2 separate regions of the Homo sapiens genome follow, and region 2 is linked to region 1. The links come from fine-mapping of genetic effects on gene expression. Tissue or cell type: lung. Region 1 holds a variant in brackets; the other region holds the start of a gene. All regions are shown on one strand. Distances are between the middles of the regions. Region 1 has its middle 19 kb from the start of LINC02091. Region 2 holds the start of DOC2B (double C2 domain beta).

What was found. PIP is the estimated chance that this variant, and not a neighbour inherited with it, causes the effect.
Region 2: it holds the start of DOC2B, and the variant in region 1 is fine-mapped to the expression of DOC2B in lung (TOPMed, PIP above 0.99). The same link has a PIP of 0.9 or more in atrial appendage and esophagus mucosa.

Annotation. Positions count from the first base shown.
Region 1 is chr17:203,201-208,564 of GRCh38, forward strand. No RefSeq gene overlaps it. Among named protein-coding and RNA genes, the nearest start is that of LINC02091, 19 kb to the left of the region's middle. The variant A/G (reference allele first, on the strand shown) is at 3,126.
Region 2 is chr17:179,103-184,466 of GRCh38, forward strand. It overlaps DOC2B (double C2 domain beta), which reads right to left and starts at 2,548. Exons shown (of 9, transcript NM_003585.5): 1 at 2,005-2,548. The coding sequence starts at 2,377. It overlaps LINC02091 (long intergenic non-protein coding RNA 2091), which reads right to left. Exons shown (of 2, transcript NR_104420.1): 2 at 4,722-5,356. RefSeq lists enhancers at 904-1,470, 2,932-3,433.

The sequences.
Region 1 (5,364 bases):
TATCACTCGTTTGTGGTGATGCTGGTGTGAACACACCTATTACACTGCCAGTCACATACGAGTGGACAGTAATGCCCTGGGCCCTCACACTCACCACACACTGACTCTCCCACAGCGACTCCAGTCCCGCAAGCTCCATTCACGGGAAGTGCTCTATACACCTGTGTCATTTTAAAACATCTTTTATACCGTATTTTTACTGTACCCTTTCTATGATTAGCTACACACATAATTCCACGGTGTCGCAGTTGCTACATGCTGCACAGGTTTGTAGCCCAGGAGCCCAGGCTCTCCCACATAGCCTAGGTGTGCTGTAGGTTCTGCCACTTAGATTTACGTCCGTGCTCTCTATGATGTCTGCACAATGATGAAATTGCCTGACAACACATCTCTTGGAAGTATCCCTGTCGTATCCTGGTTGTTAGGTGACACATGCCTGTACTTCTGTGTGAATGAGTTTGAGTAAGATCTCATCTGCACACACATTAAGGGCTGGCTAGCCTTATTAGCATAAGGAATGTGGCAGTGGGTTTTCTTTCATTTATTTACTGTTTTTGAATAGGGTCTTGTTTTGTTACCCAGGCTGAGTGCAGTGGCGAGATCATGGCTCACTACAGCCTCCAACTTCTGTGCTCAAGCAATCCTCCTGCCTCAGCCTCCCAAGTAGCTGGGACTACAGCTATAGTGATTTTGATAGGGGGGGAATTTGTTGGGGGTCACTGAGGCGGGCTGGGGCACACAGACCAGGGCTCCCCACGAGGGCCTCTGAGGCACACAGACCAGGGCTCCACACAAGGGCCCTCTGAGGTACGCAGACCAGGCTGAGGCACAGAGACCAGGGCTCAAGAGCTGCTCTGCCCAGGATTCCTGTGGCTGCTGTGAACTGAGTGCTCCTGGCCGAGGACCCACAGCTTCTGGGAAGTGTAGGTTGGGGCTCCTGATCTGCTGGCCCCTCCCTAGGGATGCAGAGCACACAGGCCCTGGGCCTGGAGTGTTTCCATCCATCCACACATCCTTCTTCCCATCAGGACACTGGTCCATCCTCTGTTCATCTGTCCATCCTCTCAGATGTCCTTCAGCACATTGGTCCATGCAGAATATCTATGCACCTGTCTCTCCATCCATCTGTCCAATGCTCCATCAGTCTGTCCATCATCCATCCTCCCATCTGTCCTCCACCCACCCACCCCCACCATCCCCCACCCAATCATCATCCATCCAACTACCCCCTATGCCCCCACTCACCCTTCCCCCACCCAGCCATCCGTTAACCCCTCCCCCACCCATCCTTCCCCCACCCATTCCCCACTCAACTATCGCCCTACCCATCCCCCACTCCTCCACCCACTCACCCATCCATCTCCTCACCCATCCCTCACTCATCCAGACCTCCATCCATCTCCTCACTCACCTGCCATCCACCCATCCCCCAACCATCCTCACCCCTCCACCACCCACTGACCCATCCCCTACCCCTCCATCTACCCATGCATCCATGCATCCATTGATCCAGCAATATTTCTTGACAGCTAACTAGGGACCCAAAGGTGAATAAGCCTTGACTTCTGCCTTCAGGAGCCGGGCTCTAGGGAACCCAGCCTTGCCATGCCACGTCTGGAAGCAGAGCCTGGGAAGAAGGTGCAGCGACTGATCTGGGCAGGCCCCTGCTGTGGGGGCAGGGATGACAGGGCCCAGCTTTTGGTTCCCTTTTCCCCATGAAAGAGCCTGGGCAAAGGTGGAGGCGATGGCAGTCGGGAAGGAGGGAGCAGGGAGGGAGAAGCTTCATTTGTCAGCTGCTCAGCAGGTACAGTCAGACTTAAAATGTCTCCAAAGAGCAGCCGCTGAGAGGCAGGGGGTGAGCACGCTGAATTATTTTCTGGTAATTGGCACTGAAGAAGCTGCAGACATCCTGAGGTCTGCATCAAAGGCTCAGAGCTTCGGCCGTCTTGGTGGAGACTGGGGGCACCTCGTCGGGGGCTCCTAAGGATCTCTGAGCTCCTGCCTCCTCCTCCTCCTGCCTGCCTGCTCTCCTCGGTACTGTGGGGTGAGGAGAGGCACACTCTGCTTTGCTTTCTGCACAAGACAGCCCCGGGGTGGGGCCGGGCGCTGCGGGTCAGAGCCCTGACCGTTTGCAGAGGAAAGGAAAGGGACAGGAAACTGGAGCATCAAGGCCCTGCTTTGCAGGGGACACCAGGACTTAGCCATGGCAGGGGCTCTGCCAATGCTCTTCACACATGGCCTGGCGAGGTCCTTCTCCTCACATACTCCGGGCAATGCCAGTGCCAGGTTTTCCTTTGGTCTCATCCCTCCCCTGTGCAGAAGAGCATTTGCTGGCACTTGGATGAGCAATTTAAAGGCACTGGTCCTCCACATATATTTGAGACAGGGTCTTGCTCTGTCAATCAGGCTGGAGTGCAGTGGCACAGTCACAGCTCAGTGCAGCCTCAAACTCTTGGGCTCAAGTGATCCTCCCTTCTCAGCCTCCTGTGTAGCTGGTACTACAGGCATGCACCACCACGTCTGGCTATTTTTTTTTTTTTTTAATTTTTGTGGAGATGGCATCTCTCCATATTGCCCAGGCTGGTCTCGAACTCCTGGGCTCAGGTGATACTCCTGCCTTGGCCTCCCAAAGTCCTGGGATTACAGGCATGAGCCATTGCACCTGGCCTCCTACGTATTCTGTAAACAGGTGAACCTTTCTGTGTTTGTACATACTAGTGTATGCACACGTGTGTGTGCGTCTGTGTGCCGTCCATCTCCCCTGGCGAGGGCCCCTTCTGCCTAGTACCTCCAACAGCTGGACCCTCCAGCTGGTCACCTTATGTAGGAGGCTTCTCTCCCCCATGGGCGGAGTGCAGGGCAGGGTGGCCTGGGGTGGAGGCTGCAGGCAGGCCAGTTCCCCATCCAGCCTCAGCCTCCTTCCTGCTGGGGAACCAATCATAGGGGAGGAAACTGAGCTTTTTCCTTACAGCCACCTCAGGCTCATTGGCTGGGCCCCCTGTTAAAAAAAAAAATACAAAAAAGGGGGGGGCAGATTAACCAGAGAAAAGTCTGAGCATGTATTTAGCATGTGTTACGTCACACGGAAGCTCCATGAAGAAGTGAACACCTGAAGGCACCACAGA[A/G]CCCGAGTGTTTCTTACGGCAGGCAGCTCGATGGGGAAACGTGATTGGGTGAGTGTTTCTTACGGCAGCTGGAGGAAGGTAGAAGGTGGCGGGGAAACGTTATTGGACGAATGTTTCCTACGGCAGCTCGATGGGGAAACGTGATTGGGCGAGTGTTTCTTATGGCACCTCGATGGGGAAACGTGATTGGGTGAGTGTTTCTTACGGCACCTCGATGGGGAAACGTGATTGGACGAATGTTTCCTACGGCAGCTCGATGAGGAAACGTGATTGGGCGAGTGTTTCTCACGGCACCTCGATGGGGAAACATGATTGGGCGAGTGTTTCTTACGGCAGCTCGATGGGGAAACGTGATTGGGTGAGTGTTTCTTATGGCAGCTCGATGGGGAAACGTGATTGGGCGAGTGTTTCTTATGGCACCTCAATGGGGAAACGTGATTGGGCGAGTGTTTCTTACGGCACCTTGATGGGGAAACATGATTGGGCGAGTGTTTCTTACGGCAGCTCGATGGGGAAACGTGATTGGGTGAGTGTTTCTTACGGCAGCTCCATGGGGAAACGTGATTGGGCGAGTGTTTCTTACAGCACCTCGATGGGGAAACGTGATTGGGTGAGTGTTTCTTACGGCAGCTCCATGGGGAAACGTGATTAGACGAATATTTCCTACGGAAGCTCGATGAGGAAACGTGATTGGGCGAGTGTTTCTTATGGCACCTCGATGGGGAAACATGATTGGGCGAGTGTTTCTTACGGCAGCTCGAGGAAGGTAGAAGGTGGTGGGGAAACGTGATTGGGCGAAGAGAACAAGGTCAGTGGAGTGAGCGGGGACCTGAGCCAGGCATGTCGTTCCAACCCCGCTCCATGGTCTCGCGATAAGATGCTCCTTTCCTCCAGGTACCAGCAGAAAGCAGGCGTTTTCTCATGTGGGAAAGATGCCGGCCCCCGCTGTTTGGGGTGGAAATCCTCTAACCCGCTGGGCCTGTGCGCCAGGGCTGAGCAACAGCGCGGAGCCGTGCATCTGTCGGGGGCGGGACGCGGCAGCAGGGCTGTGAGGGCTGCGTTTTCTCTGCCAGCCTGATCCGCATCCCCTGCCCCTCGGTCGTCTGCCAGTGTCCGTGTATCTTTTGCCCCAGCTGGTGCGGGTTTAGGGATGTCAGCCCCAGGAGTCACAGGTGAGCTGGTTCCAATGGGAACCTCGGCATCACCTGGGAACTGAAATATGCATTGTCAGCCCCACGGCAGACCTCTGAATCAGAAACTCCGAGGTAGGATTAGTGTGTTCTGTGTTCTAACAAGTCCCTTGGGTGGTTCAGATGCAGCAGGAGGACGGGGCCATGTCCGTTTTGTCCACTACCAAACCCAGGGCCTAGAACACTGCACCTGCACCAGCATCTGCCCGATTAATGCTCGACAGAGGAATGAATGTGGATAAGCACCATTATTCCAAAGCCCCAAAGGGAGAAGCATGAAGGTTTACTGTGCCCCGGGTACCAGGCTGCCACCCTTCTCACGTTCTTATGGCATCTTGACCACTCCTGAGGCACGTGCCTCACTGAATTCTACGGGAGAAACAGCTGGTAGCTGTTGACATACTGGTCACGGTGGTGGGAGCTGTACTGGGGCCCTCATGTTTTAAATTTCCAGTCATCCTGGGACGGAAGTGTTATCCCCATTTCACAGATGAGAAACAGAGGCACAGAGAAGCACCCATACTTTCAGGCACTAAGTAGCAGATCTGGGATTTGAAACCAGGGTCCAAAGTTCATGAGCTCTCCACTTGCGGCCTCTTCTAGGAACCACTTGGGTTATCTGGTATTTGGGACAAATCCAGTCCCTTCCGTATGCCCTGATTTTTACGGATGTCACAGAACACCTTCCACCTTCTACCAGGAAAGGCTCAGTTCTGAAAGCTAACTTGTAAGTTGGTTGCTTGGGACTAAGAAAGCAGTTTCATAAAGAAAGGATTTCTTGGTTCCCAGACCAGCCCACAAAGAACCCTTGACTCCAAGGCAGCCGCAGGCTCCCGTGAGGGATCTGCAGCCCACCTCAGCTCTGAAGCTGACACTTCCACGATGACGTCGTCTTAATGAATGCCTTCTAGGAAATGCATTTGGAATCCACCCTGGGGCTGCAGGGACTGGGTCTGGCCCAGTCATGGGGTTCTGGTGGGGGCTGAGTGTGGGGGCTCATCTGCATCAGGTCTGAGAGGGCTTTGGTCCTACAGAGGCGTGGGTAGCGC
Region 2 (5,364 bases), 24 kb before region 1:
ACCGTCCTCCTTAGCTCCTCTGAGCCCGTCTTCAGCATTTCTTTGGCATGTCCTGATAATACGGGTGTGGCCAGCCCACAGTTCAAGCTGGCAAAGCTGCATCCAGCTCTGCCCTGCACTGCTGACCTCATGTGAGTCTGGCCCCTGCACCGCATGTATCTCAGGCCAGGGGCCCAGCCCTGCTGCCAGGACATGCTCCCTGAAGGGCTGCTGAGCTGATGGATTGGAGATGGGGCTGGCTGGCCTGAGTTTCTAGCTTCCTGGTCCCCTCCTTGCTTTGTGGGTTCAGAGACAGCAAAAAAAAGAAAAAGAAAAAGCCTCTTGGCCATTCGCCATGCAGAGGGCCCTCTGTGGCACCAGGAGGGTGGCCTGAAGCTCTGCCCTCCCCTCTTACTTCCTTGGTGCAGCAGCAGAGATGCCAGAAATGGGAACAACTTTCCCATCCGTTCTTCTGGGGGAGGCTTTGGATTCAGGGCAGCCAAAGCAGTTACTTGGGTCCCACTCAGGGCCCACCCAGGGGATCACCAAGTCCAGGGTGAGCTTCGCACAGGGTGCCAGGGGCAGAGGGGAGGGGGGGTGGATCTAGGGCACAGCCCTGAGGGCAAAAAACTCTTCCGACCCAATCTCCCCAAGCTGGCAGGAAAGTGGAGGGACAAGACTGCTCCCCAGCCCCCACGCCCCAGGGCAGGGCCTTCATGTGCCAGGCGCTGGCCCGAGGGCCGTGGTCCAGGCCTCTAGAAAGTGCAAAGCAGGCAGTTTCCCCTACAGGGGCCCTGCTCTAACCGGCCACTGCTGATGGGCCTCCCCAGGTGGGGCGATGGGGGGTCTGTGCCCCGGGGGCACTGGTAATCCCTACCTTCAGCTTCTGGTGGCACATTTGATGCTTGGGAAACTCCAGGCCCGCAGCCCACAGGCCCTGGTGAGTGCCCAGGCCAGGCGCAGACATCCCTGCTGCGCAGGGGAGGGGCAGCACCAGCCCTGGAGAAGGGCCACATCCCGGGAAGGGCTGGGGTTTGACGAGACGCTGGTTTTCCAGGTCTCAGTGACAAGTCTGGAGCCACAGCTGAGCTAGGAGGGGGTTCTCACATGCCATCCCCACCCCGCGCAAACCGACTCCTCACTGGACTGCGACCTCTTCCGGCCTCGGTTTCCCAGCCAGTCCCGGCTCGGGCCGGACAGGCACCCTCGGGGACGGGAAAAGGCGCCAGGAGCGCCCACCGGCCGGGCCTCGGTCCCGGGACTCCGGCGCTTGCCTGCTCCCGGGGGCTCAGGGCTCAGTCCGGGAGGAGGGGGAGCGGGCTGGGGGGCCCTCTCTGCCCGGGGGCCGCGGGCGTAACAGGTGGGCGAAGGTGCGCGGCCCTGGCGAGGGCTGCGGCGGGGTCCATGGACACCGGAGGAGGAAACGCCAAGGTTTTTCCAAAGGACAAGCGGCCCCGCGGTCCTCCTGGTCCTCTGCTCGCGCGCCAGCAAAGCAGCTGCGCTCTGCGGGCCGCCGGGACCACGCGGGAGGCCGGGCCGCTCCCAGCCTCGGGCCCCTCCCCAGCTCGCCCCAGCCCCGACCCTCGGCCGCGAGGCCCTCCCGGAGCGGCTGGCGAGCGGGGAGCGACCGCGCGGCCGGCAGCAACTGGTGTCTCCCCGGGACGCAGCTCCGCCCTTCCCGGGAACAAAAGCAGCCGCCCGCGCCGGAGCTCCGGGAGGGCGGGCTGGCAGGGAGGGGGCGCGGCGCCGGCTCCGAGGAACCCGGCCCCGGAAATGGGACACCCCCAGGGGGTGCCCCCGAACTTCCCTCCTGTCCGGCCTGGGTCGGGGGAGGGCTCGAGGCCGGTGGGCAGGGCGCGGAGAGCGCACCGAGTGCGCCAGGGGCCCGCAAGCCCGCGGCGGGGTTGTGAACCGAGGCAGAGCGCGAGCGCGCGAGGGGGACCGGCGGAGGGAAGCCGCGAGGCCGTGGGGGGGCCGAGCCCGAGCCAGGGGAGGGGGCGCGAAGTCGGCGCGTGGGAAACTTACTGCAGTCGTCCGACTCGTAGCCGTCGGCGTCCGGCTCGTCCTCCGGCGGCTTGGCTGGCGGCCGCGCGGGGCTGGGACCCGGGCTGGGGCCCGGGCTGGAGCCGTAGGCTCCGAAGAGCTGGTCCACATCCTCGTCGTCCTCGCGGGCGCCGTCGGAGGGGCTGCGGCGGCCGGCACCGGCCACAGCCGGGCGCGCGGGGGCGTCCGGGGGTGCAGCGGCTCGGGGCCCGGCGTCCGGGGGCAGGCCCCGCGGGAAGCGGGGGAAGTAGTCGGAGATCTGCTTGATGGGACGGATGGGGCCGGGGCACACGTCGATGGCCATATGCTCCTGGATGCTGATGGTCGCCTTCTCCCCGCGCCGCCGGAGGGTCATGCAGGCAGCGCCGCCCCGCCCCGGGCGCGGCCCGGCCCGGCGCGACCCCGGCCCGGGGGCGGCTCAGCAGGCCCGGCGGGGCGCGGCGGGGGCTGCGGGCATCGCCGGCCGCGCCCCCGGACGGCCCTGACTTGGCCGCTGCCCGCTCCGCTGCGGACGGCGCGAGCGAGTGCCAGAGGCCGGCAGGCAGGGGGCGGGCCCAGCCCGCGTCACCCGGCAGCAACCAAGCAGGGTGAGTGTGCGGGCTGCGCGGGCGGCGCGGAGCGGAGGGAGCCGCGCGGCGCCACACTCACTCGCACTCGCACTCACACCGGCGTGCACGCCGGCCCGGGACCCCGCGCGCGCACACTCGCGGCCAGGCAGGGCCGCCGGGCGCCTTCCGCTCATGCACGCCCGCGGCACAAGCTGGGAGTCAACCCGGCAGGGACCCGCAGGACGCGCACCCACACGTTCCCGCGCGTGCCAGCCCACGCTGGGCTCCGCTCGCTCTCTCGGGACACACGCAGGTGTGCAAGTGCACACATGCGTGTGCAGAGACACGTGGTGGAAGCATCCGCTCGCTCACACCGTAGGTCACACACGCAAACGTCTGCATGCGCACATGGTTGTTTTAGGAAGCTGTGACACAGTACACCCCCAATGCACAGGCGCGCACACCTGATGGAGCACACACACAGGTGATCAAGGGCACCCAGGGCACAGGCTTCCCTACCCCCAAGCACCCCTAACAAGATGCACAAACATGAGCCCATAGAAGTGATCAGGGGACCCTGGGCACAACTCCTTCTCTCCTCCCCCTCTAGCAGGACGTGGAGTCACACTCCTAGCATGTAGGGACAGGTTGCCTACACACGGGCAGGACATGTACACGCTCAACTGCACAAGGACACCGGGGCTCAGTCTGTGCACACATATTCTCAGGTCACATACAACACAGCACTCTAACCTCGGGTCAGTCCCTCACTTGGTCAGTGAGTACAGTCTGAAGGACCCCCCGGGGCAGGGTGGCTGAGAACCTGCACAGGGCCTGGTCAGGAGGGAGTGAGGGCAGGGCCTGGGCGGTGAGTGATGCAATAAGGCTGGGCGGCACGCTCCCCCCACCCCCACTCCTACTCTAGGCCTCCCACACGGTCAGATCACTAAACAAATCCCAGAGGGCCCAGCCCTGGCTGTCCGGCTTTCCGGGACCAGAGCTCTGTTGGGAACTGCTGCTGCTTGGACAGGTGTGTTCCCGGAAAGCCCTGGGCATGGATGGAATCCTGTTTACCCTCTGGTTTCCACTGATGTGTAAGACACTTAGCTTCTTAGTGGGTGCCTTTGGTGCATCTGAATGAGGGGCTCCAAGCCTCTCTTGTTCCCCCACCATAACCCCTGCAGAGTGATGGGGAGCAGAGGAAAGAGAGGCAAAGCCTTGGCCTGTGGCTTCCAGCTGCACAGTTCTGGCAGGCTATTTGACCTCTTTGAGCCTCGGTTTCCTCATCTATGAAGTGAGGCTATTTCCAACTGCACAGCCTTGTGGCAAGGCCCCATCCAGCACAGACAGGTAAGAGGTGCTCAGCTGGCTTTCCCTTCTCCCTTCCTTTGGAAAGACAAGACTCATGGTGAGAAGTGATGAGAAATTCATGTTTTGTGGTGAGTTCTGAACTGGGTGGTGGCGGGCACTACCGGCCTTTGAAAACACTGGAGAAACACATGGCATATGTTGTACTGCGCCAAGAACATTCACAGCTGTCATCTCATTGATTCCTTAAACCACCCCACGATGTAGGCAGGGCCTGCTGTTCCCATTTCACAGGGGAGGAAATTAGCGCTCAGGCACAAGGATGTGTCCAGGGTGACTGCTGGCTGGCGGCAGAGCTGCGATGAGAGCCCAGTGTCCTGACTGTTCGATGCTTCCACTTTCCCTCCCTTCTCCCTTTCCTCCCCTCCACTACAGAGCTCAGGGGCTCAGAGCAGAGTTGGAAACACAGGTAAAACCTCGTTCCCAAAGCTCATCCTGAGGCTTCTTGGACAGGGGAAGCCCAAACTGAGGAGGAGGGGAAGGAGGGAAAAAAAGGAGGAGGAAGAGGAGGACGGGAGGAGGCCAAGAGCCTCAGGGGTTACAGTGGGAATGAACCAGCCGGGGTTCCCTAAAGATAGTCTGAGGTCCTGGTGGGAGAAATATTCAGCCTTCCAAGAGCCAAAGGCCAAGGAAAGGACAGAAGAGCCTGGAAGGGCAGCCTGGCACAGAGGGGTTCTCATTTCCAGGAATGCTTAAGGGGATTAATCCTTAAATAGGCACAGGGTGACTTTTTCTGTGCCAGAGGTGGCTGCATCACAAAATGATTACATAATGACGCAGGTATTAAAATACAGACGCTGAACTGTCATTTTATCATTCCTTTACTAAGGAGCTGGAGGGTGTCGTCATCATCTTACAGATGGGGAAACTGAGGCTGCGGGAGGTCAAGTGACTAGCAAGAGGCAGACTGGAGATGAGACCTGGACGTCCTGACTGCTGAGCCTGCCAAGGCCCTGTACCTGTGTTCACCGAGAGCTGGCCGCTCTCTCCTGGCCTCTTGTCCTATGGGTCTGGTTTTTGGAGGATCGGCTCATGGCTCTTGGCTCTGCAGGAGCTGGCTCTTGGGGAGGGCTTTGAAGAAGTCAGGTGGAGGGCCCAGCCTCCTAAGCATGGAGCCAGGGAACCCAAGGATGCCCACTGGAGAAACACATGGCATGTTGGGGTCTACCCTTTGGCAGGTGGCAGAGTTGAAATCCACTCTAGGTCTGAATTTGCCCAGCTCTGAGCCCAGCTGAAATGGGGTAGGGCCTCCCCGAGGGATAGAAGTGGATAGAAGTGGTGTTATCTGGGCAAGTGTCCACTTTCTAGAAAGAGCATAGGTCAGGGAGTAGGCAGACGTAGAGTCAAAAGTCAGGTGTGCCTCCTCCTAAGCGTACCGGACTTTGGGCAAGTTGTTTAACTTAGGCCCTGGGTCTCATCTGCAATG